Regions from separate parts of the Homo sapiens genome. Here all the other regions are linked to region 4. Evidence: fine-mapped expression QTL. A gene starts in region 4. Each other region holds a variant in brackets. All regions are shown on one strand. Distances are between the middles of the regions.

Evidence for each region.
Region 1: its variant is fine-mapped to the expression of PCNX1 in whole blood (TOPMed, PIP above 0.99).
Region 2: its variant is fine-mapped to the expression of PCNX1 in whole blood (INTERVAL, PIP above 0.99).
Region 3: its variant is fine-mapped to the expression of PCNX1 in whole blood (TOPMed, PIP above 0.99).
Region 5: its variant is fine-mapped to the expression of PCNX1 in whole blood (TOPMed, PIP 0.97).
Region 6: its variant is fine-mapped to the expression of PCNX1 in whole blood (TOPMed, PIP above 0.99).

The regions. Positions count from the first base shown.
Region 1 is chr14:70,881,697-70,885,696 of GRCh38, reverse strand. No RefSeq gene overlaps it. Among named protein-coding and RNA genes, the nearest start is that of PCNX1, 24 kb to the left of the region's middle. The variant G/A (reference allele first, on the strand shown) is at 2,401.
Region 2 is chr14:71,141,844-71,145,843 of GRCh38, reverse strand. No RefSeq gene overlaps it. Among named protein-coding and RNA genes, the nearest start is that of SIPA1L1, 180 kb to the left of the region's middle. The variant A/G (reference allele first, on the strand shown) is at 1,646.
Region 3 is chr14:70,936,466-70,940,465 of GRCh38, reverse strand. The region is part of intron 1 of PCNX1 (pecanex 1); the gene reads right to left. The region is part of intron 2 of LOC105370557 (a long non-coding RNA gene); the gene reads left to right. Among named protein-coding and RNA genes, the nearest start is that of PCNX1, 31 kb to the right of the region's middle. The variant G/A (reference allele first, on the strand shown) is at 1,952.
Region 4 is chr14:70,905,745-70,909,744 of GRCh38, reverse strand. PCNX1 (pecanex 1) reads right to left here and starts at 2,286. Exons shown (of 36, transcript NM_014982.3): 1 at 1,742-2,286. The coding sequence starts at 1,894. RefSeq lists silencers at 1,134-1,473, 1,634-1,973, 2,194-2,383.
Region 5 is chr14:70,972,669-70,976,668 of GRCh38, reverse strand. The region is part of intron 5 of PCNX1 (pecanex 1); the gene reads right to left. Among named protein-coding and RNA genes, the nearest start is that of PCNX1, 67 kb to the right of the region's middle. The variant A/G (reference allele first, on the strand shown) is at 1,566.
Region 6 is chr14:71,105,821-71,109,820 of GRCh38, reverse strand. PCNX1 (pecanex 1) reads right to left here. Exons shown (of 36, transcript NM_014982.3): 34 at 775-1,217; 35 at 229-369; 36 at 1-26. Among named protein-coding and RNA genes, the nearest start is that of PCNX1, 200 kb to the right of the region's middle. The variant C/T (reference allele first, on the strand shown) is at 1,547.

The DNA.
Region 1 (4,000 bases), 24 kb after region 4:
CTGTTGAACTGTTTTAACAGAAATCTAAGGTTCTTCTTATTTTTGTTGGAGGGAATGATGGCAATGGTGACAATGGTGTTGGCATTACTGAGTATAAGAATGAATGTATAAATCAACAGTGACAAATGAGTAATACATAAGCCAGAGAGCTTTTGTGATCAATTCTGCAGAGGCCCGTTCCCCCTCCTGGTGGTTTCTCTGTTCTTGGCAAAGACTCCTCTCACTTGCTTTATTTCTCAGCCTGAGCCACAGCAATCTCTATAGTTCAATATAAATAATGAGGGTGATATTGATAATAACAATAGCTCTCATTTATTGAGTGCTCCAAGTGCCAGGCACTCTTCATATATTATTTATACTCCTTATAACAACTCTTTGAGGTAGACATTATTATGTTCCTTTTTAGCCAAGGAAACAGAAGCCTCAGAGAGGTTAAGTGGCTTGCCCAAGTTTACACAGCAGATAAGATAGTCTTGGATTCAAACCTGAGTCTGTTTGACTCTGAAACCTGTGCTTTCTTCGCTTTATCTCCGCAATACAGCTGTCATCCTTGACTGGGCTCTTGGCCCTTTGCCTGGACACTGTATCTGGGCCTTCGATACTACTGCCCAGTCAGCTCCTGAGCTGCCTTGCTCCTGTCCTTCCAGGTTTGCACCGCTTTGGCTTCTGTCTTTGCTCAGATGCTCACCTGTCTGGCCCCTGGAAACATATGGCGCTCACCTATTTCTTGTCGGTCCACATGGTTCTGCCCGTGGGTTTTCTAATCTCACTGCTCATAAGCAAGCTTGCTGGGCCTGACTCATGAAGGAGTGGCTTGATGCTCCCAGACTCTGGGTAACTGTCCCTCATTCTAGACCCTCCTGCCTCATAAGTAGAGTCTCCCCTATCATCCAGCCTGGCTCACCATTGCAGAAGAATGTTTCCTGCCTGTGTCAGAGAAACCAGCCACCTGGGTTCTTCTATCTGCTCCTGCTGTGCTCTGTCTTGAATACTCTTCCTTTCTTTCAAAACCACATTCTATTGCTCAGCTCATACCTGACTCAAAACCCAACCTACTGCCCACAGACTAAGATCTCGACCTGGAATTATATCCTATTACTATCTGGCCTCACTGACCCTTTCAAGTTCCAACCTTATTTTCCAGCCAATTGTTTCCCATCCTTTCTCTGTGATTTTCTGCTCGGCCTTTTCTCCTGCTCTTCTCTGCCAGGAATGCTCATTTCCTCTGTGCTAGTTCAGGATCATCCAAGATCTAGCATAAAATCCATCTTCTTTACAAAAAATGGCCCTAACCTTCCCAGCTGGAAATGGTCTCTTCCTTTCATTGATCTACTGTGGCACTGTATCTAGTGACACCTAACAGTTTTCTACATTTTGCCGTAGTTAATTGTATACATATTTTTTCTCCCCTTTTACACTATAAGGTCTCTGAGAACAGAGAGCATCTGATTTTTTTTTTCTTTTTTCTTTTTTGAGACAGAGTGTCACTCTGTCGCCAGGCTGGAGTGCAGTGGCACAATCTCGGCTCACTGCCTCCTGGGTTCAAGCAATTCTCCTGCCCCAGCCTCCCGAATAGCTGGGACTACAGGTGCACGGCACCAAGCCCAGCTAATTTTTGTATTTTTAGTAGAGACGGGGTTTCACCATATTGGTCAGGCTTGTCTCGAGCTCCTGACCTCAGGTGATCCACCCACCTCGGCCTCCCAAAGTGGTGGGATTATAAGCGTGAGCCACCGCGCCCGGCCTATTTTTTCCTTTTTGATGGCCTTACAGTGCCTAGCAAAATGCCTTGCTCAGAGTAAGTGCTTGATATAAATTTATTAATCCATCAGCTGGATGGATGGATGGATGGATGGATGGATGGATGGATAGATGGATGGATGAATGGATGGATGGGAAGGAGGTTATAGGAATTGAGACTCTGGCTGAGCTTTTTTAGCCAGGTAGCCATGGCAGGAGAAAGGCTTCACCTTTCATGAGAGCGTATGGTCATAATCACAGAAGGGAAAGAATAGCTTGAACCATAGCTTGAACCAGTTAACCATGCTGCCAATAAAATCAGGCCACATGTGTTTACCATGTTTTATGTTTACCAGGCTGCATCAGTAGGATACTTTAAAATATGGGACAGAAATCCTGACTCAACCTCAAACTAGCTTTTATCATAAAGAAATGTATTGGCTCCAATGCAGGATGTCAAAGGCTGGGTAGGATTCAGGACTGGTGGATCCAGTGGCTCTTTGCATCTCTCTGCTGTGCTATCCCCAATGCTGACTTCATTCTGGGGAAAGATCCCTGGGTTTTGGAAGGCTTCCAGTAGTTGCTGGGTTAATTGCTTCCCTTTTCACCTCCTACTAACTTCCTGTGACTCTTTCTTAAGGGTAAGAAAGCATATTTTCC[G/A]GAAGTGTTTAGAAAACTCTTTATGACTCATTGGTCCCAATTGGCCTTGGCCTGCCTACCCCAGACCCATTCACTAGCAACGGGGATGGGGGTGGGGTTCACATCACTCAGGACCCACCCTAGAGCTGCAGTAGAACCTGTGATGGAGAGTCACTCCAACACCCCTTACACAGCAGACAGTTTTATGGGGGCCACTCCAATGAAAGGTTGGCTCTTAGGACCTTCTCATTTTAGACACGCAGTAAACAATGAAAAACATGTCATCCAAGAGATCTCATTGTCACGGATCTTACAATATATCTCTTGCCTAAGAGTCTTCCGGTGTTTCTTGTGCAAATCCAGCGGTTAGTCAACAGGGTTTATGGAACACATGCTGTTTAGATAGTGTTACTCTAAGCACTGTACAAAGTTAGAAAAACAAGACAATGCAGCTACTTAAAAAAAATTTTTTTTAGAGACAAGGTCTTGCTCTGTTGCCCAGGTTAGCTTCAAACTCCTGGGCTCAAGCAATCCTCCTACATCAGCCTCCTTAGTCACTGGGATTATAGGCGTGTGCTGCACTGCCTGGCTTATTTTTTTTTTAACAGTAGAATGAGCATTGAGGAAAGTAGTTCTCTTCTGTTAATTCTGCTCCGTTATTTTCCAGAGTGTAGAAACTGCTTGATTTCCTTCCTCCTTTCTTTGTCCCCTCTTATTCAGCTCTCTCTTTCCTGTCACTAATTTTCTCCTTTCTTATTCTTTCCTCATTTCAGGAAAGCAACATAGCGGAGATTAGGAGTGTAGAATCTGGAGTTAGATTTCTTGGGTGGGAATTCTCACTTTGAGTTCTAGCTGTGACTTTCCAGCCGTTACTTCATTTCTCTAAGCTTCTTTTCACTGGTAAATCATGTCTAAACATTATGCCTACCTCCTTGGGTTATTCTCGAATTTTAAAAATGATGCACATTAAAAATGATTACTAATGGTTAATGATTTTAATTTTCTTCTTCATCTTTTTTTAATTATGCCACATTTTGTGTCCTGTTCCTCCCTCCTACATCCCACAGTGATAGGCTGATAGAAAATAGTCAGAAATAGAGTGCACAGAATCAACTTCCTAGTGAGAAATGGAATGGAACCATTTCAGTTCCTTCTCTTTTCTTCATTATACTTCGAGTATTTAAAGAGTGCTATGTGAATACATTTAAGGCAATGGAAATGTACAAAACCAGTTGAGAGGAACACATATGTGGTACATATGGAAGCGGAAGTATGAATGCTCTGTTCTGCATAAGAATCCCCCAGCTCTCAGTTGCTTCATCGAGGCCTGGTTTGTTCAATTGGTTAGAGCACCTTCTGATGTAACCAAGATCACGGTTTCAATTCCAGAATGTGGTGAGCCTACTTTATCTATTTGATGGCTACAGCCTCCTCTGCTGAACCTGGCAACCATCTGTAAATGCATCCATTGTTTAGAAAATGATCAATCAGAGGAGCCCGGTTGAAGCAATGCAAATCAATCACCTTACTAGGAAACAACACGACAACAGAAAGTACATGCTATCATGGTGGTGGGTTAACTGTATGATGTTTGTACATGAAGAAGGCATAGACCATGACA
Region 2 (4,000 bases), 240 kb before region 4:
GACAGAGCAAGAAAGAGGTCAAAGCCTGAGTTACTAGCTCTACTGGGCTTAATTTCCACATAGGAAGGTAAGGCAAACACAGCAGTGTAGCACGTTGTTGCTGAACGGAACTCAGGTTGATCTGGTCTGACTTTTCCATTGTTCAGTTGAGGACACCAAGAGGCTTGGTAGCCCTGCCCAAAGTCACAGAGAGAGCTTGGGCTGAGCCTGGACTAGACCCAGGTCTCAGGCCTCAGGCTCGACTACCCTTTTTTGTAAGGTCTAGTTTTTGTCGTAAGGGAATGACCACATTTTGTTGAGGCAGCCAGGGACTTATTGCTACCGGCATCTAGTGGGTAGAGGTCAAAGATGCTGCTGAAAATGGCACACATATGACAGCCCCACAATAAAGAACTGTCATGCCCAGAGCGTCAACTCAGCTGACTCTGTTGGCGAGTGTAGGTAACACTCTAGGCTGATCACCCAAGCTTCCTGGAAGAGTGGAATTGCAAGAGGGGAAAAAAATGCAGTGGAAATAGCTTATAGTTTAGCATTTCCACTGTTTGGTGAGAAAACAGGTGTAGTGTCTTTTTTCTGACACTTCTGATACCAAGTGTGTGGAGAGTGTTCCACACTCGTGACCCGTGACTCTGACATCAACAGGAATCCAACAGTCAATTCAGTTCTAACTCCTGGAGTTAGAGCCAACAGTGCATGTTCAAGGCTCCGTCCCAGACTGCCCCTGCTTCAGATGCCAGCCACAAGTCCAAGAAGCCGCCCATACTTCTGACTATACATTTGGGAGTTTCTACAACCCCTTCCTCAGTTTTGATAATTCACAGCTCATAAAACTCAGGAAAACGTATTAATTAACATTTGCCCATTAATTATAAAGGATACAATTCAGGAACAACCAAATGGAAGAGCTGCATAGGGAGGGTGGCAGCCACCACCGTCCTGGGGCTCTGTCTTTCAGATGCACCATCCTTGAAGCGCATCAATGTCTTTCTTTTATTTTTTAAACAGGGTCTCACACCGTCACCCAGGCTGGAGTGCAGTGATGAAATTGTAGCTCACTGTAGCCTCGACGTCCTGGGCTCAAGCAATGCTCCGGCCTCAGCCTTCCAAGTAGCTGAGACTACAGGCACATGCCACTATGTGGCTAAACAAAAAAAATTTGTTTGAGGGGCTGGGCACAGTGGGTCACGCCTGTAATCCCAGCACTTTGGGAGGCTTAGGTGGGAGGATTGCTTAAGACCAGGAGTTTGAGATCAGTCTGGGCAACACAGTGAAAGCTTATCTCCACTAAAAATAAAAAAAGTTAGCTGGGCATGGTGGCACATGCCTGTGGTCTCAGCTACTCAGGAGGCTGAGGTAGGAGGATCACCTGAGCCCAGGAGGTCAAGGCTGCAGTGAGCTGAGATTGTGCCACTGCACTCCAGCCTGGGCAATAGAGTGAGACCCCCCCGTCTCTTAGAGGCTGGTCCTGAACTCCTGGCCTCAGGTGATTCTCTCACCTTGGCCTCTTAAAGCAATGTTTTTCTCAACCCAGAAGTTCTCTGAATCCCTGTCATTTAGGTTTTATTCTTGTTTTTATTAAAACAAAATTTTTTAAAGATATAGGGTCTCTCTATGTTTCCCAGGCTGGCCTCAAATTCCTGGGCTT[A/G]AGCAATCCTCCCACCTCAGTCTCCCCAGTAGCTGGAATTACGTTTCAGCCACTGCATCTGATTTCACTTAGGATTTTTTTGGGAGATTTTTATCTGACTTCATTTAGGAGTGTTTTTGCAGGGAGTGGGAGGGCGGGGGCGGGGATTTTAAACACAGCTTTGCTGCTGTGCTTCTCTTACTTTCCTACGTGGAAATTAAGCTCACTAAAGGTAGTAACTCAGGCTTTGACCTCTTTCTTGCTCAAGGTCTGAATTATGCAGGCATGATTGATGAAATCATTGGTCATTTAGTGATTGGACTTTATCTCCAATCCCTTTCCTCTCCTTGAAGGTCAGAAGTGAGGAGGTGGGGCTGAAAGTTCTAATCCTCTAATCACATGGTTGATTTTTCTAGTGACCAGCCCCCATCCTGAAGCTATCTAGGGCCTCTCCATGACTCATCTCATTAGCATACAGGACTATCAGTTCCAAGGATTTTGAGGCGCTGTGTCAGGAACCAGGGACAAAGACCAAATATTTATTTTGTATCATACCACAGCAAGCCCCGGATGGCTCAATGTCTTGGGCTGAAAGGAAGGGGCTGTTTGAGTCAGGAGACAAGAGAACAACAGTGGGAGGTGTCCTCTGTGTTCATACTCCCCTGTGTGGTTTGGTGAGCCTCAGGCTTTACAGGATGTAGGTGATGTGGGCCCTCCGTTACCTCATCTTATACTCAGGCTATGAAATGCGTCAGATGCCAGCCTTCTTGTAAAAGTTGGGGAGAGGCTGCTATGGTCAGAATGTTTTTGTTCCCTCCAAAACTCACGTGTTGGAAACTTAATCCCCAATGCAACAGCATTGGGTGGTGGGGTTTACTGGGAGGTGTTCAGGTCATGAGGGTGGAGCATGAGTGGATTAAAGCCAGTCTAAAAAGGGCTTGTGGATGTGGGTTCCCTCTGTTCTGCATTTCTGTCCTGTAAGGAACAGTGATTGCCCCTGCTCCGGAAGATGTAATGTGTAAGGTACCATCCTGGGGGTGGCCCTCTCCAGACACCAAGCCTGCTGGCACCTTGATCTTGGACTTCCCAGCCTCCAGAACTGTGAGAAATAAATTTCTGTTCTTTATTAATTACCCAGCAATTTTTATAGCTGCACAAAATGGTTTAAGACAGAGGTCATAGCAAGCTTCAGTTTTTACTTTTTCCCCTTGCATCTGAACAATTGCAAGCAGAAAGAACAACTGAGTGCTTTATTTCTGCAACCACCATGCTGCTACTGAGTGAAGGGGAAGGAGGGGTAAGAGCTTGCCTTCTTTCCTTGTGTTAATTGCAACATCTTCCAAAACCCAGCAAGGAAGGCATGAAGTGAGCCTACCAAGGCCAGTCTCCAGATGAGGGGACTATAGCTACAGATTGCTATGTTTCCTGTTGGTGGTGGTAGCAAGATTTCATAGGGGCCTTTCTTGCCATTGCTCAAAATGAAATGCATTGACACCAAAGGAAGTGGTGAAACTGTGGGCATTGTATGCTTTAGAAATTTGATATTTGGAAACCTGCAGACCTGAAGAGGCAGTAGCTTCTCCTGAAGATCTGATATCCAAGGGCTACCCAGACAAGGAGCTGACTTGTCAGGAAGTGTGGTGGACCTTGACGCAAAAACTCAAACCACAAATGTTTCACTTCTAAATTTTTGCAGGCTTTGTTATATAGACATTTTTGTTAAGCCCTGTCTAAAACAATAGGATGACTGGGTTCTTTCCCCTCCTCATGGTGACTACGTGCATCTTCTACGAACATTCCCATGTCATGTGGTCAGCTTCCAAGAAAGACTTTACCAATGAGTCTGTTTACAGATTCTCAACCAGAGGACTTACAGGAATGCACAGTAGCTATTTGTTTGGGATGCAGAGGTACATGAGCCCCAGACCTCATCCCCAATCAGGCAGTTGGGTAGGAATGGTGTGGTTACTGATGGTGGGAGGACAGGGATGGTGGGGACTTTCCTGTGGAGGGCCCACCACTGAAGAAATCTCTCTACCTCCTGGTTTGATCCAGGCTTTCCAGGGATAAAATAAGAGGGGGAAACAAAGAAGTAATCATTCCCCAGCCCCCAGTATGCCCCATCTCTGACTCAGCTCCCAGCAGAGCAGTAATAGGTCCCTGCTTATCAGATGGCATCGGAAGGGGGTGGGTGCCTGGGTGGGTGCCTGGCTGTGTGCAGTGAGGAGGTCTCAGCAGCAGCCTCTGAAGCCAACTGCTTGGCTGGAATCTAGGTGCGCTACTCACTAGCTGGGGAACTTACAGCAAGTTACTTCACCTCTTACGCCTCAGTTTTCTCATCTGCCAAAAGGGAGTACTAATAGCAGCATCATTGAC
Region 3 (4,000 bases), 31 kb before region 4:
AAGAGAGTGGGGGCCAATATTCAACATTCTTAAAGAAAAGAATTTTCAACCCAGAATTTCATATCCAGCCAAACTAAGCTTCATATGTGAAGGAGAAATAAAATCCTTTACAGACAAGCAAATGCTGAGAGATTTTGTCACCAGGCCTGCCTTACAAGAGCTCCTGAAGGAAGCACTAAACATGGAAAGGAACAACCAGTAGCAACCACTGCAAAAACATGCCAAATTGTAAAGACCATTGATGCTAGGAAGAAACTGCATCAACTAACGGGCAAAATAACCAGCTAGCATCATAATGACAGGATCAAAATCACACATAACAATATTAACCTTAAATGTAATTGGGCTAAATGCTCCAATTAAAAGACACAGACTGGCAAATTGGATAAAGAGTCAAGACCCATCAGTGTGCGCTGCATTCAGGAGACCCATCTCATGTGCAGGGACACACATAGGCTCAAAATAAAGGGATGAAGGAAGATCTACCAAGCAAATGGAAAACAAAAAAAACAAGGTTGCAATCCTAGTCTCTGATAAGACAGACTTTAAACCAACAAAGATCAAAAGAGACAAAGAAGGCCATTGCATAACGGTAAAGGTATCAATTCAACAAGAAGAGCTAACTATCCTAAATACATATGCACCCAATACAGGAGCACCCGGATTCATAAAGCAAGCTCTTAGAGACCTACAAAGAGACTTAGACTCCCACACAATAATGGGAGACTTTAACACCCCACTGTCAACATTAGACAGATCAACGAGACAGAAAGTGATCAAGGATATCCAGGAATTGAACTCAGCTCTGCACCAAGTGGACCTAATAGACATCTACAGAACTCTCCACCCCAAATCAACAGAATATACATTCTTCTCAGCAACACACTGCACTTATTCCAAAACTGACGACACAGTTGGAAGTAAAGCACTCCTCAGCAAATGTAAAACAACAGAAGTTATAACAAACTGTCTCTCAGACCACAGTGCAATCAAACTAGAACTCAGGATTAAGAAACTCACTCAAAACCACTCAACTACATGGAAACTGTACAACCTGCTCCTGAATGACTACTGGGTACATAACAAAATGAAAGCAGAAATAAAGATGTTCTTTGAAACCAATGAGAACAAAGACACAACATACCAGAATCTCTGGGACACATTTAAAGCAGTGTGTAGAGGGAAATTTATAGCACTAAATGTCCAGAAGAGAAAGCAGGAAAGATCTAAAATTGACACCCTAACATCACAATTAAAAGAACTAGAGAAGCAAGAGCAAACACATTCAAAAGCTAGCAGAAGGCAAGAAATAACTAAGATCAGAGCAGAACTGAATGAGACAGAGACACAAAAAACCCTTCAAAAAAAATCAATGAATCCAGGAGCTGGATTTTTGAAAAGATCAACAAAATTGATAGACCACTAGCAAGACTAATAAAGAAGAAAAGACAGAAGAATCAAATAGACGCAATAAAAAATGATAAAGGGGATGTCACCACCTATCCCACAGAAATACAAACTACCATCAGAGAATACCATAAACACGTCTACGCAAATAAGCTAGAGAATCTAGAAGAAATGGATAAATTCCTGGACACATACACCCTCCCAAGACTAAATCAGGAAGAAGTTGAATCCCTGAATACACCAATAGCAGGCTTTGAAATTGAGGCAATAATTAATAGCCTACCAACCAAAAAAAGTCCAGGACCAAAGGGATTCACAGCCAAATTCTACCAGAGGTATAAGGAGGAACTGGTACCATTCCTTCTGAAACTATTCCAATCAATAGAAAAAGAGAGAATCCTCCCTAACTCATTTTATGAGGCCAGCATCATCCTGATACCAAAGTCGGACAGAGACACAACCAAAAAAGAGAATTTTAGACCAATATCCTTGATGAACACTGATGCAAAATCCTCAATAAAATACTGGCAAACCGAATCCAGCA[G/A]CACATCAAAAAGCTTATCCACCATGATCAAGTGGGCTTTATCCCTGGGATGCAAGGCTGGTTCAATATACACAAATCAACAAATGTAATCCAGCATATAAACAGAACCAAAGACAAAAACCACGATTATCTCAATAGATGCAGAAAAGGCCTTTGACAAAATTCAACAACACTTCATGCTAAAAACTCTCAATAAATTAGGTATTGATGGGACGTATCTCAAAATAATAAGAGCTATCTATGACAAACCCACAGCCAATAATCATACTGAATGGGCAAAAACTGGAAGCACTCCCTTTGAAAACTGGCACAAGACAGGTATGCCCTCTCTCACCACTCCTATTCAACATAGTGTTGGAAGTTCTGGCCAGGGCAATCAGGCAGGAGAAGGAAATAAAGGGTATTCAATTAGGAAAAGAGGAAGTCAAATTGTCCCTGTTTGCAGATGACATGATTGTATATTTAGAAAACCCTATCGTCTGAGCCCAAAATCTCCTTAAGCTGATAAGCAACTTCAGCAAAGTCTCAGGATACAAAATCAATGTGCAAAAATCACAAGCATTCCTATATACCAATAACAGACAGAGAGCCAAATCATGAATGAACTCCCATTCACAATTGCTTCAAAGAGAATAAAATACCTTGGAATCCAACTTACAAGGGATGTGAAGGACCTCTTCAAGGAGAACTATAAACCACTGCTCAACGAAATAAAAAAGGACACAAACAAATGGAAGAACATTCCATGCTCATGGATAGGAAGAATCAATATTGTGAAAATGGACATACTGCCCAAGGTAATTTATAGATTCAATGCCATCCCCATCAAGCTACCAATGACTTTCTTCACAGATTGGAAAAAAACTACTTTAAAGTTCATATGGAACCAAAAAAGAGCCCGCACTGCCAAGACAATCCTAAGCCAAAAGAACAAAGCTGGAGGCATCATGCTACCTGACTTCAAACTCTACTACAAGGCTACAGTAACCAAAACAGCATGGTCCTGGTACCAAAACAGAGATATAGACCGATGGAACAGAACAGAGCCCTCAGAAATAATACCGCACATCTACAGCTATCTGATCTTTGACAAATCTGACAGAAACAAGAAATGGGGAAAGGATTCCCTATTTAATAAATGGTGCTGGGAAAACTGGCTAGCCATAGGTAGAAAGCTGAAACTGGATCCCTTTCTTATACCTTATACAAAAATTAATTCAAGATGGATTAAAGATTTAAATGTTAGACCTAAAACCATAAAAACCCTAGAAGAAAACCTAGGCAATACCATTCAGAACATAGGCATGGGTAAGGACTTCATGACCAACACACCAAAAGCAATGGCAACAAAAGCCAAAATTGACAAATGGGATCTAATTAAACTAAAGAGTTTCTGCACAGCAAAAGAAACTACCATCAGAGTGAACAGGCAACCTACAGAACGGGAGAAAATTTTTACAATCTATCCATCTGACAAAGGGCTAATATCCAGAATCTACAAAGAACTTAAACAAATTTACAAGAAAACAATCAAACAAACCCATCAAAAAGTGGGCAAAGGATATACACAGACACTTCTCAAAAGAAGACATTTATCCAGCCAACAGACACATAAAAAAATGCTCTTCATCACTGGCCATCAGAGAAATGGAAATCAAAACCACAATGAGATACCATCTCACACCAGTTAGAATGGTGATCATTAAAAAGTCAGGAAACAACAGGTGCTGGAGAGGATGTGGAGAAATAGGAACACTTTTACACTGTTGGTGGGACTGTAAACTAGTTCAACCATTGTGGAAGACAGTGTGGCAATTCCTCAAGGATCTAGAACTAGAGATACCATTTGACCCAGCCATCCCATTACTGGGTACTTAGCCAAATGATCATAAATCATGCTGCTATAAAGACACATGCAACACGTATGTTTAATGCAGTACTATTCACAATAGCAAAGACTTGGAACCAACCCAAATGTCCATCAATGATAGACTGGATTAAGAAAATGTGGCACATATACACCATGGAATACTATGTAACCATAAAAAA
Region 4 (4,000 bases):
GTGAGAATTCAGTTTAACTGAACTCCCAAAATGAAGGAAGTAAACTCAATGTCCTGGTTTCCATTTGCTCTAATATTCTTTCAGTAACATTTGCTAACTACACAAAGAGACTTAACCATGACCACACAGTTTACTACAAGTGTTAAAAAAGAAATCTTACACTGGACCCAGCAACTAATCCTTACCTCTCAAAAATCATTTTCAGTTTTAAATCTACAATTCTTCTGGACATAGAAGAAATTTGCTTTGAAAATTTTGTGACAGCCTGAGGATTCTTAAACCCAAAGTAATTAACCCGTTCATTAATGATGTCATATTCCTGGAAGGTATAGTAGTGCAAATAGAACTCCCTAGGCCAAAATTAATTGAAAATTATAATACTTCACGATAAATTTTCAGAATGCAACAAGACTGAACAAGTCCCCCTAATAAAACAAGCCACAAGCCATCAGCATTTCTTAATGGCTTTTTTTTTTAACCTCAAACAATAAGTCCCTTCAAAACAATTTCAACGAAAAATGTGAATCTGCTTGAGAATGTGCACATCTTCCCTCAAGCAGACACTTTTCCTGCCAATTAGTGAAACTGAACTTCACTTAGGGAAGAATTGGGTGTCCTCACCTTTTGCACTTCTCATAGTGGTCCTCCGGGATTTTCTAACTCAGCACCCTGTCTCTAGCTCCACAAAGAACCTCAAAGTTAGCAGAAATACATTCAAAGGAATTCTCCTAAAATAAAAAGTTCAGATCCTTTCCTCCCCTCTGACTACTTTAAAATTTTATATGAAGCCTTAAGTAACATCTCTGTCCACACGAGTTTCCCTAACGCCCCACCCTAACCTGTGCTTTAGAAACTGCGCTTAACAACTTTCAATGTTGCTTTAAAAACACAGATGATTCAGAGAAGCTGATCGCACCGAATTCAGCAACAGGCAGTACTCTCTCTCCCTACTCCTATCCGCCAAAGGCCTTGAACCAAGCCAAACAAATCTGCTGAAATGCCAGCCAGATTCCCCGTTATCTCCCCGCTCCCTCCCCCCAGGGAGGCCAGGAAGCACCACGGCCACCGGCCACGGGGCCGAACAGAGAAGAACCGCTGCGAAGCACAACAACGGTTTTTTAGAGGCAGGAGGGTTCCGAGCCGGGTTTTCAGCCACCACCCAGGACCCCTGGAGGACGAGCCCGGACGACCCCCACACACACTCGGAGCAGAGCCGCACGGTCCCCCGCGCTCCCGGGGCTCCGCACGCGGATTAGCGGCGAGGCGGCGGGCGGCCTCTCCCGGGAGCCCCGGACGAGGGCCGCGGCGGGGGCGGGCAGTGCCGGATGCCGGGCGCCCGAGGAACCCAGCGTGCCAAGGATGGATGCGGCGTCCCCTAAAGCCGCAGAGCGCTCGGCGCCTGCCACACAGCCCCACGGGCGGGGGGCCCCGGCGGGGACGGCCTAGCCGAGTGGCCGCAGGAGGGAACCCCGAGAAGGGGCCTAGGACGCTGCCGCTTCCCAGTGAGCGGGCGGGGGCGGCCGGCGCGGGTTGCCGTGGGCTCGTTGCTCGTGTCACCTCCGAAACCAGGAAAGCCCCGAAGAGAGGAGTGGGAGCACGCAGTGGGGGCGGGGAGCCTCACACCGAGAGGGTGGCGGCCCCCGGGGGACGAGACCCCGTGGAAGAGGAAGAGGGCGCGACCCCAGCATCTCCCCACCGGCTCGCGGGGAAGGAGCCACCCGCTCCCCGCCCCCACACTCACCATGTAGAGGGTGAAGGGCAGGCCCAGCAGAAAGAGCCACAGGTAGAGGTGCAGCGCGTTCACGAAGGTGGCCTGGTGCGGGTCGTAGTACCAGCCCCCGCTGAGCGCGGCCCACACCCCCTGTCGGAGGATCTGCAGCGTCTGCGACCCCATCCCCACCCGGCGCCGCCGCCGTCGCCGCCGCCGCCGCCGCCGTCCCCGCCCCGGCCCCAGCTCGGCCTCGGTCGCCGGAGCCTGCAGCTGCCCCGTCTATCCACCTCCGGAGCTCCGGGTGAGCGAGCCGGCGCTTCGGCGGTCGCTGGTGCTGCTGCAGGAGGAGGAGGAGGCAGCAAACGAGGAGGAGGAGACCCGAGAGGAGGAGGCGGCGAGCGGCGGGGCGGAGGACGGCGGAGAGGAGGAGACCGGCCTTCTGAGAGCCGCCGCCATCTTGTCTCCTAACACCCGGAGCCGCGGCCCGGCCCCCGCCACCCGCGGCCCGCCAGCGCCCCCACTGCCGCCGCCGCGACCCCCGCCGGCCGCCAGCCCTGGGCCAGGCAGAGAAAGAGGCCCGGCGCCAGGGAGCGACCGAGAGGAAGCCGCGCCCCCTCCAGCTCCTCCTCTCCGCTCCCTCCGCCCCCTGGGCCGGCTACGGTGCGCGCCGCGCCTGGTCCGCCGCGGGCGCCTCCTGCCGACGTCCGGGAGAAGCGCGCGTCAACGCGGCCGGGGTTCAGGGCCCCGGGGGCTGCGGAGGTGGCTGAGACGCGGCTGGCTGGTCCGGAGGACCCCATTCTGCCCCTGGTAGGCCCCCTGGCAAGTTCGCCTACGAGTCTCTAAACGGGGTCTTTCTGACTCCGAAACTAACAGATCTTGACTCCAGAAAAGCGTCCTGCCTGTCATTTATGATATTTGTGAAAGACCTAGGAACAACTGAAGCTAACACCTGAGATACTGAAGGCCTGGAAGAGTTAGGTACGGCTGATGACACTGTTGAAAAGTCATAAACGCACCCAAGTTGAGCAAGAACTGTGTTGGCCCGTGTGTGAGAAAAAATAGCCACGTCCAGACTGGGAGAATTTACTACTTCCAAAGACAAGTTAATAGAAGCGGCACAGGACATGGAAGTATGGAGTGGACAGGTTACCATTTGTACGCGGTGATTGTATTTTTAAATGTGCTGTAACTAGCAGCCATTTTTATTAATGGGCCAATCTAAACAGGGTTGAAAAAGATTAACCGTGACGCCACCCCAAATTACAATAGGGTCTTGTAGATCTCTTTTTATAGCTGTAAAAACGGAATCATTCTTGGCTCTGTGTAATGTTTATAAGGCGTGTCTGATCTCACTGAATAAAATTTTATAGAAAAGTTTGAAATTTGAGTTTATTGAAGTTTGGCTTTTATGGCAATAAAAGTACTGTGTATTCCCAGATTACAGTTGCTATAATTAATGAGGGAAACAAGAGCCAAAGGAAACTGGTGATATTTTAAGAAGAGTAATGAAAAACCGTTACAATACCTCCCAGTGCCATACCACTTTATAGTTGCTCAGACACTATCACACCCATTCCATTCAGACCTCAGGACAACCCTTTGAGGGCAGCATAGCAGCTATTGTTATTTTATGGATGAGAAAACCTGTAAACTCAAGTAAGTGATTGGCCAAATGCTTATGGCCACTTATTGCTCATAAGCAATAAGTGGTTGAGAACTCTAAAACCAGCAGTCATGCTAACTGCATGCACTGAACTTTGGAAGTTCATTTCTCAAGGCTCTCCACCTTATTATCCATTTCAGGTAAAAGTTTGAATTGATTAAGAACAGTTCAGCACCTTCTGGTTATCTGTGACCAGCTTAAATACATGACCAGTTTTCGTCAAAGTGCAAATTCTTAGGGCATCATTCTATAGACACTCTGTGGGGTGGTACCCAGCAATCTGTTTTAACAAGTCCTCCGGAGGATTCTAATGTAGCTTACCACTGTAGAACACCACACCATCCCTAGCCTTGATTTGTTTATGTCCTTATAACCACAAAGCCACTGAGTTCCAGTAAGATACCTTGAAATTGAGAGCTGTGAGTAAACACTGGACAAAATATACTTTAAAATATATTTGTATATCTAAAAGCAAAATTATGATTAAATAATGCAATTTTACAATTAAAATAGTGGCCTTGAAGCTGGTGTCATAGATACCAGCTATTGTCAAGTTTTCATTTGTTTCCCCTAAAGGAGACAGGAAAGCTCTCTGGGAAGGTTTTGGAAGTAATCCCAACCTTTCC
Region 5 (4,000 bases), 67 kb before region 4:
GGGCGCAGTGGCTCACGCTTGTAATCCCAGCACTTTGGGAGGCCAAGGTGGGTGGATCACAAGGTCAGGAGATCAAGACCATCCTGGCTAACACTGTGAAACTCCGTCTCTACTAAAAATACAAAAAAATTAGCCGGGCGTGGTGGCGAGCGCCTGTAGTCCCAGCTTCTCCGGAGGCTGAGGCAGGAGAATGGTGTGAACCCAGGAGGCGGAGCATGCAGTGAGCCGAGATCGTACCACTGCACTCCAGCCTGGGCAAAAGAGCAGGACTCTGTCTCAAAAAAAAAAAAAAAAAAGAAAGAAAGAAAGAAAGAGCAACAAAGGACTATACTTAAAATAGGCCTGGATTTCTATGCAAGCTCTATCTCCAACTTACTAACTTGGTAACTTTGGGTTACCCCCCTGTAAATCTGTTTCCTCATCTGCAAAATGGGACATCAACTTCACTGAGTCACAGGCAAGGAATAACTGAGTTAATGACATATATTGCTTGACACAATGCCGTCACAATTAAAGATGGCTATCATTATTCTACCTTACTAACACAATATTAAAATCCTTTCAAAAAGCTAATACGATTATTTCACAAATCAAGAAAACCTAGAGTAATCAGAAACAAACAAACGAAAATAGGCTGACCAATGCCTAAACAAGATATAATGATGTAAGACATCCTCTTGCTGTTCAGAATGGTAAAAACAGCAATAATTACAGAGCAAAATACTGCATTTTATCTTTCATTATTGGTATAGCAATTAAAAAATACTTCATGAAAAAAATACTTACCTTCTTGTATCTGTAAGACCACTGCTTTAACCCTCCATCCAGACCAGTGATTAGTGACTTATCATACATACTAGATATACAAATGTAAATATAGATATAAATCAATGTATCTACCTACCTACCTACATTGTAATTTATCTTGGAATATAGCTTGACAACCAAACTGCAAAATAGCTGATTTTTAAATATATGTTTTGACAGACAAGGACATCTGAACCTGCTGTTAGTTCAATAAAAAGAAAAATTATTGTCTTGTCATAGCTGGATAGACAAAGTAAAATAACAGATTCTATAGTAAATCTGAGTCTTCCCAGTAGAATCTCAATGACCAAAGCAGACATTTCCCCCTAAGATTAAAAGAAAGGAATGAGTTATTAAAAATGTTTATGTAATCTTTAAAAATCTAAATGTAGATTTAGCTATGATTAATTAATTAAAAATTCACGGATAGCCTCTGGAGTGTACCATAAAAATTATAGTGTATAAATGTCCAATTACACTTTATTTTACATTTTAAAGTTTTCAAGATAAGTAAAACCCGTTCTTTATTATTTTCCCAACACAGCTGCTACTGTAGTTGCGTTCTTATATCTTCTAAATATCAAAATTTAAAAGCTAGCATTGTACGTTTTGTAATATTAAATTATAATGTTATTTCTAAAAACTCTTTATCTCTAATAAGCAATTATCGGTTGGTGTGATATTCACATTTCAAGGATATGAATTTTACAGAAAACTTATCGACTCTGAGCAAGTAGTTGAAAATCACTAAATCTAAG[A/G]TAACAAAAGGTTTTTTTAATGCTAATGATCAAAACCAACTTCCTTCTGATAAATTAATAAAACAGAAATGTAAGTATTTCATTTTAAAAGACACAGCCAAACTTACTTTAATACATGCACTTTTTTCGATACTGCTAAACAAATATACCACAAAAGGTTTAATTTTGTCAGAAAGAATTTCGGTGGTTTCAGGAAATTTTCAGGTAAATATATTTTTTCTTACTGTTACCCATATGAAAAAGATTATATCAAAGTTAAGAGGCTCAAATCAACACAAAAAGATACATTTTTCATCGAATCAAACTTTTTTTAAAATAATTGTTATTAGTGGCGTTTAGAATAAGAAAGACATACTGCTCATGGTGGTACCAACTGGTGTAACCTTCTTAAAGCAATCTGGCAATATGGCCAAGAAACTTGAAAAGGTATTCTTATCTTGAAGGTAAGAAATTGTTGCTAAAGGATAGAGTCAAATATGCGTACAAGGTTTTTAGCACAAAGTTGTTCATGTCACCTTATTATAAAAGTTCTTAAAGCACAAAAAGTATAACAATGTCCTATAAATAACGATTGAATATGTGGTCCACTAATAATTTCATACAGGCACTAAAAACATTTTCAAAGATTATGTAATAACATGAGAAAATAATTAAGTGAAAAAGGTGGCACTGGCTGGGTGCAGTGGCTCACGCCTGTAATCCCAGCACTTTGGGAGGCCGAGGCAGGTGGATCACGAGGTCAGGAGTTCGAGATCAGCCTGGCCAACATGGTGAAACCCCATCTCTACTAAAAATACACCACTGCACACTCCATCCTGGGCAACAGAGCGAGACTCCCTCTCAAAAAAAAAAAAAAAAACAACAAAAAAAACCACAATTCCAGTTCTGTAAGTTTAAATGAATGCTAATGGTATATGGGCGTATATTTTTATAAATGCGAAAAGTGATATACCACAGTTAGCCATAAAAAGAAATAACATCCTGATACATGCCAGAATAAGGTAAATGAAAGAAGCCAGACACATTAAAAAAAAAAAAACCACATATAATTGTGTTTATATGAAATGTCCAGAATAGGCAAATTCAAAGAAACAGTAAACTAGAGGTTGTCAGGGGCTGCTTGAAGGGGAAATGGGGAGTGTAATGGGTGCAGGTTTCTTACTGGAGTAATGAAAATGTTCTGGATTTAGATAGTGGTGATGGATGCATAATATTCTAAAAACCACTGAATTATATCAAAGCAAAAAAATATGAAAAAATGATATGCAAAAAAAAGTTTATCAGTGGCAGAGGTCTAAATTTTTTCTTCATACTTAACTATATTTTCTAAAGTTAACATATATGTTACTTTTATAAACAAAAATCATACCTTCTTTCTCTCTCTGATCATCCCTATCAATTGATTATGGATAATAATCAATTATACAAACATGTTGTTATATCTCTTACAACATCTTACAAAATCGAAATCCCTCATCTTTACTTCTCCTGCTTGCTATCACCTTTACAAAAATTCACTGAAAGAGTTGTCTGTATTCACTGTCTGATTCTTCTCCTCCAATTCTCTTTGTATTCCAATTCAACTCCCCTAAGACCGTGCTTATCAAGGTCACCAACACCCCCTAAATTGTTCAATCCAATGGTCAAGTCTCAGTCTGCATGTCACCTGACCTATCGGCAGCACTTGACAAAGCTGGTCAATCCATTCTCCTTGAACACAGGTGGATAACAGTCTTGGTTTTCCTTTGATCTCACTAGTTGTTCCTACTCAGTCTCCTGGACTTCTTAAACTAAAGAGGCTCAGGGTTCACATCTTAAAACTTTTCACTTTTTCTTTTTTTTTTTTTTTTTGAGACAGAGTGTTGCTCTGTCACTCAGGCTGGAGTGTAGTGCTGCAATCATGGCTCACTGCAGTCTTGATCTCCTAGGCTCAAGCAATCCTCCTGCCTCAGCCTCTTGGGTAGCTGAGCTACAGGTACACTGCACCACACCCAGGTAATTTTTTGTATTTTTTCTTAAAGGCAGGGCTTCACCATGTTGCCCAGGCTGGTATTGAACTCCTGGCCTCCAGCCATACTCCCACCTTGGCCTCTCGAAGTGCTGGGATTATAGGGGTAAGTCACCGCACCCAGCTAGAACTTTTCACTTTTCTACCTATACTCCCTCTTTGTAAATCTTATCCAGTTTTCTATCCCCATGACAAACTGAAATTCAGAAATACCTGTAACTAGTTCCTCTACCTTCTACCCAGCCCTCATATTCCCATGGGGACGGTCTGAAGTTCTGATCTTGGATAGGGAAGGTATGAGCGAGAGGTAGGGAAACTGTAGATTATCTTAGAAGTGAAAAAGTTAAAGATATACCCCAATATCCTGTTTTCCCCCAGTCATCCTGAATCATGTGACAAAATGAGTGCCAACTAATCAACTAACTGT
Region 6 (4,000 bases), 200 kb before region 4:
CTGCAAGGCACCCATCGGTGAATCACCTAATGATTCAGAATAAAACAAGAAGTTAGCACTGGAGACCTGGAATATACTCACAAACTCTTACCCCTACCTAGGATTAGTAGTAGCAATTTTGTCTGAAAATTATACGTTTAAGTATAAATCAGCTAAAACCATGCATCCAAGTGAGGCGGACTTCAAAAAAGGCAGAGCCCCAGACCGCCAGCTTGTAAAAGAACTTACATGGCCTTCCATGCCCTCCTGCGGACTCCAGTCTTTCCAGCTATTTCTCCCAGCTTTTAACCGGATTCCTTCATCAGGCCACTGTAGCTCTTTCCTTTTAGACAGGTTGATCCCTTCCAGAATTTGACTGGGATCCACAATCTACATGGTAAATAAAAACATTTCCAATTCATTTTTTTCTTGATGATGAAAAATTATGTAATCTCAAACAAAATGCTTTTCACAGAGAGGAATTACTTTTTAAATTCCTATAATGGAATAAAAAAAAAATCTTAAGAGCTACATCTTGAATTCTTTTCAGCCCTCTGGTAGACCTCACTGCAATGTCCATGAGACAGTGGCTGAACAAGGAACATATATCACCATCACAAAAACTGTTTGCTTTCAGTTTTTAAGTTTGAAGAAATTTTTCCCCAACATTCAAAAATATTCTAGTCCTGAGACTAAGATAAGGTGTGTATTCACAACAGTCCTTCATTCAACAAATAAGAAATAAAAACAAATAAGTAACAAAAACAGCACAAGACCACCTCTGGGCTTACTTACTTGGACTCTGTAAATCACTTCTGCCTTTCTGGAGTGTGAATTGTTGGCAGGACTTAAGGTGTTGCCTGGCTGTGCATCAGTGGCACTGCTCTGACCTCCCTCTGTCGCAAGAAAGCCCACGAGAGTGTGATGTTTGCAGGCTGGGATGCTTTGGCTGGAGCTGCTGGAGGAAGGCAGGCCGTGCTGCACACAGGCCAGGCCGCTCTGACCTGAGGGTTCCATTTGGTTCACCATCGACAGTCGGGATTGGATGGATGATGGCAAGTTTCGAAGCGATATCTGACTAGTAGAAGAGCGCCGACAAGGCACAAACCCAGTGGTGGACATCCGGAGGGATGAATGCCGGCTGCTATAGCAGTAGGAAGACTGGCTGGCTACTGAGGCCCGGGCAGGAGACTGTCTGACCAGGCCCGACTGCACAGAGTGAGAGCTGTGGCTAGTGCCTAGGAGGAGAAACAGCAGCACTCACTCAAAGTAGAATGACTCAGACACAATACTTCTGTTTTGCAGTTTCTAAGACTTTTTCCCCTAAGCAATTAATTGGTGAACTGACAGAACTTAACGTTTATGCCTAAAACTTTTAAAGTTAAGAAAAAGAAATACGTATCTGAGATCTATTTTCTTTTGTGGTTCTTGTAATATATTTTTTATTTGCTAAAGTTTTTTAAAGTTCAAATTCTGTGGCATATGAAAGACAATTAATAATTAAATATTTTACAGCAAATATCAGGACTTAAGGTTGGGATAAATCCTAAAATATGTTTCACAGAAG[C/T]ATTTTAAAATAACAAGAATACTTCCATAATATATCAGAAATGAAATATCTCACGGAAATGAGACAGTCAGAAGGATTTACTAAGAAACACTGCATGATCTCACTTGTGGAATCTGAAAACCCCGAACTCACAGAAGCAGAGAGTAGAATGGTGGTTGCCAGGGGCTGGGGAAGAGGAGGTGTTGGTCAAAGGGTACAGAGTTCCACTGAGTCAAGAGGAACAAGCTCTGGAGGTCTACTGTACAGCCTGGGGACTAGAGTTAATAATAATGTGTTGTATGCTTAAAAATTGTTGAGTAGCTCTAAAACATTCTTATCACAAAGAAGTATATGAGGTGATGGATAGGTTAACTAGCTTAATTTAATCATTTCACAATATATTCACATATCAAAACATGATGTTGTATACCATAAATATATATAATTTTTGCCAGTTAAAAAGAAATATTTATTAAGGCCCTACTATGTGGCAAGCTCTATAACTACTATTTCTCAAAGTATAGTATTACTGCCCTTTCAACTTCTACCAAGGAAAAGCTACACTGTCTATAGAGAGACAGTGAATACCACGCTGTAATTTTCATATACATTTGGGGATCACTACTAAATCGGAATGATCAGTGGCACTGAAAAGCAGGTTCTTCTGCATCCTTTTTCAAGTGGCTTGATATGATTCTTCAGACTTGTCTTTTTCTTGACTCATAAGAGTAATGTAAAATTAATTACATTGAAACATAGCTACATGTACTTTTTACCTAAAAATAAAAAGAGCTAATCAAGGTAAGAACAAAAAGTACATTTAAAGAACACTGAAAGTTTTAGGTTTTCACCTAAATAAAAAATATTTAATTATTCATTATGTCTTTCATATGCCACAGAATTTGAACTTTAAAAAACTTCAGCAAATAAAAAAAAAATTACAAAAACCACAAAAGAAAACAGATCTCAGATACGTATTTCTGAACATCCAAAATGTTGATCTATCAGGTCTCTTCACTTGAATCCCATTGAAAATATATATATTTAAATTTAATAAATGTCTTTACATTTAAGTAAATGTCTTAGAACTTTATTTGATTCACGTGAAGCAGTCAGGGGGGCAGTTGGGGAGAGGATCAACTTCTTCATATGGCTGGATCAACTGCCCAGCCATATGGAGACAGTTGAGACCTGATTCCTTCTGCACACCAGGTGGATTGTAGATCTCATGTCAAAGGGAAATTAATAAAAGCATACTTTGAGGGCCTAGGGACAGGGAAAATTTTCTTAATTAGGACATAAAAAGTACTAATGATAAAATAAATGAATAGTAAGTTGTTCTCACTAAAACTAAGGACTTCTCATCAGAAGAAGGCAAGTAACTCTTCACAGTAAGAGAATGAAAAGACAAGGGACAGAATGGGAAAAGATATTTGTGGTACAGAAAACTGAAAGAGCTCAAATCCAGAATATAAAACACAAATCAGTAAGAAAAAGATAACCAAATAGAAAAATAGGCAAAAGATGTAACTAGGCACTTTAGAAAGAGGAGCTGCTGATAAATTCATTAAAAACTTCCATTCTTAGGTATCAGAGTAATGCAAATTAAAAGAATAAAATTAAAGACCACCCCTTCTCCTGCCCCCACTGGAGCAAGCAAGGAGCAGAGGCAGGAACTGACAATCTTCAAAGCTGGGAAGGTTGATAGGACTGGTGAGAGTACCAACTGGTTTAAAAAAAAAAAAAAACCTTTCTGGAAAGATTTTTGGCATTATATATCAAGAGTCTTATTCTCATAGGCTTTGGCCTAGTGATTTCATTTTTAAAGTCTCTAACCTATGAAAATAATAAATGATTATAAAGACTTATATACAAAGACTATTACAACATTGTTAGAAGAAAAACCAAGTAATTGTCCAACAGGGGAGAAGTTAATTATAATAGTTAAATATTGTTAGCCTTTAAAAATTATATTTTCAGCTGGGCGTGGTGGCTCACGCCTGTAATCTCAGCACTTTGGGAGGCCAAGGTGGGCGGATCACAAGGTCAGGAGATCGAGACCATTCTGGCTAACATGGTTGAAACCTCGTCTCTACGAAAAATACAAAAAAAAAATTAGTTGGGCGCAGTGGCATGCACCTGTAGTCCCAGCTACTCGGGAGGCTGAGGTAGGAGAATGGTGTGAACCCAGGAGGCAGAGCTTGCAGTGAGCCGAGATGGCACCACTGCACTCCAGCCTGAGCAACAGAGTGAGACTCTGTCTCAAAAAATTAAAAATAATAAAAAAAATAAAAATTATATTTTCAAAGAATCCTTAATATATTAAAATGTTTATGTTGAATTATCAAGTTTTAAAAGTATATATACAAATATATAAAATATATATTTATATATATAAAATAATATGAACAAATGGAATAATGTACAACTTGGAATAAAAAAAATTATATTTCTGGGCTGGGTGTGGTGGCTCAC